Regions from separate parts of the Homo sapiens genome. Here region 2 is linked to region 1. Evidence: fine-mapped QTL for protein levels in blood plasma. A gene starts in region 1. The other region holds a variant in brackets. All regions are shown on one strand. Distances are between the middles of the regions.

What was found. A credible set is the group of variants that fine-mapping cannot tell apart. PIP is the posterior inclusion probability: the model's chance that the variant is causal. The UK Biobank Pharma Proteomics Project read protein levels with antibody pairs (Olink). The fine-mapping took linkage between variants from a reference panel, not from the people measured, so its PIPs are less certain.
Region 2: its variant is the best candidate, but not a certain one, in a credible set for the plasma level of the DDC protein (UK Biobank, PIP 0.69).

The regions. Positions count from the first base shown.
Region 1 is chr7:50,564,368-50,567,238 of GRCh38, forward strand. DDC (dopa decarboxylase) reads right to left here and starts at 1,038. Exons shown (of 15, transcript NM_001082971.2): 1 at 918-1,038.
Region 2 is chr7:50,529,503-50,532,402 of GRCh38, forward strand. All of the region lies in intron 4 of DDC (dopa decarboxylase), which reads right to left. DDC-AS1 (DDC antisense RNA 1) reads left to right here and starts at 2,257. Exons shown (of 5, transcript NR_033845.1): 1 at 2,257-2,380. RefSeq lists enhancers at 1,160-1,329, 1,178-1,347, 1,707-2,900. The variant AG/A (reference allele first, on the strand shown) is at 1,167.

The sequences.
Region 1 (2,871 bases):
TACATTCACATTTCGTCTCTGCCAGCTGCAAGATCTTATGCCATCCTCCTCCCCTCCTCTGGCTGTTTGCTCACTTGTGAAATGGGGATGTGACTGGAGGTGAAGAAGGCAAACCTTCTAGACAGAGCCCAATGTAAACTGACCACTCAGAAGTAATGGTTTTAACTCACGCATGATGGAGAGCAATGATTTCCATCGATTAAGCTTTGATTCTTATATACTTCCGACAACAGACTTAAAACCAGGAGAACTTCGACTCCTTGAAGTCGATAACCGAACAATTCTCCCAATAGAAATTCCTATCCGCATATGTTTTCAGATGGGAATTGTACTCAGCATGGCAAGTTGGTGGGAAAGATCTTCTAATTCTCCTCAAATCACACTGCATAGGTAGACACCAAATTGACCTCTAAGTAAACTATAACATACACCAAAAGGAGAGAGCCCTGACGGAGCCTCAGATGTTATAAAGGGAAGGGCAGAGTTCACATTTACTAATCACCTCCATAAAATCATGGGATTTAATCCTCACAAGGTAGATACTAAGAAAATCCTCATTTACAGAAGAAACAGAGGCTGGGGGAATAAAATACCCAACACCATCCCTGGTGGTGCATGGAAAAAATAGAATCACATCTGGCCCGCATTTGCTACTGAGCCAGTCATGAAATCATTCCCAGCACCTATCAAACATGTGTCACTGGAGTGACTGTGTGTGCATGGAGAGCCACCAAGTGCACAGCCCCCACTGAACAAAAACCCCTGCCAGCCTGCAGCAGAAGAGAAAGCACCACACAAGCTCCCTCAAGTGAGTTAACCTTTAAGCAAATGTTCAGTAACATGGGGCCAGAGAGTCAAGGTACATGTTGCTGTTTTCCACTACTACAATCTGAGTAGGTATAAAATCAGAGACTTACATGCTGGAAATTCGAATTCCTTACAGGGCTACTCTCCTTGATGGGATTCTCCAACTTTGGGGACTGAAGAGCATGTGGAGAAGCTGCTGAGGCACTCGGCACTGAGACAGTCACTCTTCTTGAAACTCCAAGCCACACGTTTCCCTCTTCTTGCATTTCCAGCCACATGTGCCAGTTAAACATTAATTCCTGATGGTGACAAAGGTCAAGGAAATCTTGAGAAATAGCTCGCCTCTGGGAATCCTGAGAGCACATTCTGAAGAGACTGTTTCATTCCAAATCCTGGAAGCTTGGATCTTTCTTATGTAATTCTACATACATCCCATCTTTTACTAAGCAGCCCTGATTTCAAGTTTGGAGCCCATTAAGTCATCTGATATGTTCCAGCCCTGCACCAGGTGATGCCTGCATTGCACACAGCCTCCTGCCCCTGAAGGCAGCCCCAAAGTAAGCCTGCACTTCCCGGTGCAGCACTCAGCAATATGGGTAAGATTTCCAGGTTCAGATATCAGCAGAACCCAGGAACTCACCTTCCTTCCCCAAACCCATCAAAATCATAGTTGAGATGCATGAAACAATACTCTGAGTGGAATTTGGACAAATTTATAAAAAAACCCCAAAGTCGATAGAATTTTATGAGAGCACAAAGCAGGGCTGAGAAAGCCACATTGAGAAGTTGAGCAGGCACAGCCTGCAGGGATCTTAGGAGCTGGTCTTTCTGGCAGACCCCCAGCAGCTCCAAGCGTGGGGCTCAGTGGGTGTGAAGAGCAGAGTGAGAGTGAGGCTGGCTGCGGGCAGCTCATTAAAGGACTGGAAACAAGGCAGAGAGGGCTGTCACTAGAGCCATTTGTCACAGGCTAGATGCAGGGAAGAGCTCTCCTTGCTCTATCCTAGGGGACTGGAGCAGGCTGGGGCGGGGCACCTAGGGTTCCTATTGTTAGGACTGGAACTGGAGAGAGAAGCAGAGTGACATTGAGGAGTCTCAAAACCTCCACAGGAGCCATTGGAGGAAAGAGGGAAAAGAGAAAGAATGGCAAGTGAGCCCTCCAATGACGCACACCCAAATGCTCCCGCCTGGGGTCTCACAGGAGCTGAGAACCGAAGAAGTGATTGTCCTTGGTAAGGGGAAGAGTGAGGGAAGGGCTCCAAAGAGGGAACAGCCTCTGCAAAGTTACTGAGGATCAAGCTCGGCATCTCCCAGGCCCTGACAGAAGGCCAACTCCTAAGGACCATTCAAAGTAGGGGAGGGGGAGTCTTGCAAGCCACGTTACGTAATTTGTATCCCCCCAACTGTAATAGAAGGCATTGAAGTGTTTCTAGAAAGCAGTAACCTTAGCTTACTTATGGTTTAAGATCACTCTGGCTCTGGGGTAGAAAATGGATCAGAGGGAGATAAGGGTGAAAGGGTTAGACCCTTTAAGTTGGACCACCAATTCCCACCACATTCCTTGGATTTCTGCACTTTCCTGCAAACCAGGAGTGAATTCAAGTGAATCCATTCTAGGAGATGGGCTGGGGGAGGGAGGGGGGGCTTGAGATGAAGAAGCGTGCTAATATTCCCCATAAGTGCGTGTGTGTGTGTGCATGTTAGGAGGTTGCTGGACAAGGGGAGGAGTCAAGGGGATGGAACGACTACCCAGTGATGAAGCCAGTGGGCAGGGGATGACGGTCATAGACTGAGAGGAAGAAGACTGGGGTGGACCAGTATTGGGTGTGGGGAGGTGAAGGACACCAAGGATTCAGTTTGGGAATTAAATTTCAGATATCCACAAATCGTGTGATTTGAGATGTCCAGTACAGCTCAGAAAAAGAGGCCCAGACAGGAAATAAAGTTATGGGTTGAAAGTGTTTAGATGATATTTGAAGCAATAGGACTGGAAAAAAAACATCCATAGAGAAGAGAGACCTCAGTTTTGAAATCCTCAAAAAAGTGAACTAGTAGTGTCCAACTACT
Region 2 (2,900 bases), 35 kb before region 1:
TGACACCTGAGACCACCACTTCAGCTGTTGGTATGAGTTTGCCATTGGTGGGTCTATTTTGTGTAACAGCAGCAGCTAACATTTCTGACCACTTCCCTGCGCCAGGTATTGTGAGAGCTTCTCCTCATGGACTGCCCCCAGCCTGGCCTAGGACGACTGCTCCTGTCTCTATCAGAGGAGAACGGCCCAGGGCACCAGCATGCAAGCCTGACTCTGCGTTCATATTCACTCGGACAGAGCGATTTGCATTTGTTTATAAAATAGGGGTGCATTTTCCTTGAGACTAAGAGATGCCTTAAAGGGTTTCTTTTGATTCCTAATGACACGGGCTGAATTGTGTCCCCAAAAATTCATGTGTTGAAGCCCTAACCCCCAGGACCTCAGATGTGACCATATTTGGAGATAGGCTTTTTAGAGAGGTAATTAAAAGAAAATGGGGTCACATGGCTGGGCTCTAATCCAATCTGACATGTTTCTGATAATATGAAATTTGCCTATAATCCCAGCACTTTGGGAGGCAGAGGAGGGTCGATCACTTGAGCCCCGGAGTTCGAGACCAGCCTGGGCAACATACCGAAACCCTGTATCTATAAAAATACAAAAATTAGCCAGGCATGGTGGCGTGCCTGGTAGTCCCAGCTACTCGAGAGGCTGAGGTGGGAGGATGACTTGAGCCTGGGAGGCGGAGGTTGCAGTGAGCCGCAATTACAACACTGCACTCCAGCCTGGGCGACAGAGTGAGACCCAGTCTCAAAAAAATAAATAAATAAAAAGAAGGGGAAATGTGGCCCCCAGACATGTGGGTGCACAGAGGGAAGACCATGTGAGGACACAGGGAGAAGGTGGCCATCTGCAAGCCCAGGAGAGAGGCCCCAGGAGAACCAACCCTGTGGACACTTTGATTTTGGACTTGCAGCCTTCGGGACTGTGAGAAAAGAAATTCTTCTTCGATCCACCCAGTCAGTGGTATTTTGTTAGGGAACCCCTGGCAAACTAATGGATTCAGGGCCTGCTATGTTATCCCATTTAAGTTGTAAAAATAATCCCATTTTTGTGTTTTATCATCTTCAGGTGGGGAAACAGATGTGCAGAGAGGTTCACTAACTTGCCCCAAATCAGCAGCTAGGTAGGGCACGGTTAGGAGTGAGCCCACGCCTGCGCTTTTT[AG/A]GGTGCCATGGGCCTAGAAAGGTAGGGGCAGCGAGCACCTTCCCTCTTAAGTAAGTCGTAGAAGAAACCCATCTACCGACCAGTATGAAAGGACATTAGAAAGGGCAAATAAAAGAAGGTAGGTTCTTGTTGACTCTGAAAAAGTTTATAACATGATAGGTTTTTACAGAGAAATATATAATAAAATAATTAAGTAGAAATGCTAACCTCTCTTCTTAACATTTGATGCTCTCTTCATTGACCCTGATTTCTCATTTTGACTTTGCCTTGACACTACTTTTACTTATTCTTTTGAGCCAACCCACATCCTTTGGTGGGACAGTAATATTGAAAGATAAATACATTTATTCATGTTTCTGTAGCACTAATGGATGGGTTCAAATATACAGATATATGCGTCTCTTAATTCAGCATCTAAAATGGGTACTTTATTTCCTTCAGGCTATATTTTCATGAGCAATGATTTTAGACATTGTTTTAGGCCAGGTTTACAAACCTTGGCCAGAGGAGAGAGAAGGGGAGAAACCAATTTTGGCTGGCAAAGCTAAATCAGCCATCCCAGGAAACCCAGGCTCCCTGAGAGCAGGCATTGTACCTTACTTACACTTCTCCTATGTACCCCATCATTCCTGTCCCTGATTTCCTCCTGTCCCCCTATCTGCCCCCACACACATTTTGTTTGTCATGTCCCACCCATTCTCATTGGAAATGTAACATGAAAAGCCTGGTGGAAGGCACAATTCCCTGTTCTGATGCTTGACAAGCAGGCGTGACTGCAGCTTCCCCGGCTAAATTCTACCCTCTGCTTGAAGCGTTGGAACGCAGGTGTTCATTCTCTGAACATTCTAATGAAATGAGTCACCATGAATCACCTGAATCACCATGACAACTCATTATGGCTTTTCTCTGGGGGGGGATGGGGGAGCTTAGTTCATGTCCTAAGAGAAAATTCACCTTCTTAAGTCAACAAAATGATGTTTTAAAAGCCTGAAGGAGCAAATCGTCAGTAGCACATCTAGAACCACACCACCCCGATGCCACCAGGGTGGCCTGGTGGCCTCAAGCATGATGTCAGGTGGAGCTCTCTGCACTTTGCTGGCAGCAGATCTTCGCGGAGAGAAGCACGGGGAGGGTGACATGTGGTACAGAGCAGGAACGATGGCTCTGTGCGATAGCAGCAGACAAAGGTTGCCATGGCAAGCCTGCTCAGGAGGTAGGAGGGGATGCTGGTAAGGTCTGACGCTTCTGGCTGCTGATGCCGTGAGCAGAAATGTCCTTTCATCTTCAGTTTTTTTCGAAGCAAAAAATTGTCTTTTCTTCCACAAGAACTTTAAAACCCAATTAAGAGACCATTTTCCCAGACCACATTTGTCCAGCCTCACAACAACAGTTTGCCATTTGACTCAGACACGCATCACTGCGCTGACGCCCACAGCTGTGATTACAGCTCTGAGGGGATCAATAATGCAGGCTGGCTCACAGGCTGTCACCAGGCTCCTGTGCTCTTTGGGGCCTCACCAATTACAGACAATCAGCCTTGTCTGCTGAGAAGGGTGAGCTTCCGGTGGCAAACACAGATCCCATTTCTTCCTTTCATCCAGAAAAAAACTGAGTGGATTGGGCTCACAGGAAGATTGTGTTAAAGCGGGGGCTGAGAGATGCCAGGAATATTCCTACCCAAATGCTAAAGACTTGTATGGTCTCTCAAAAATGAGGTTGTCTTTAATGAAACG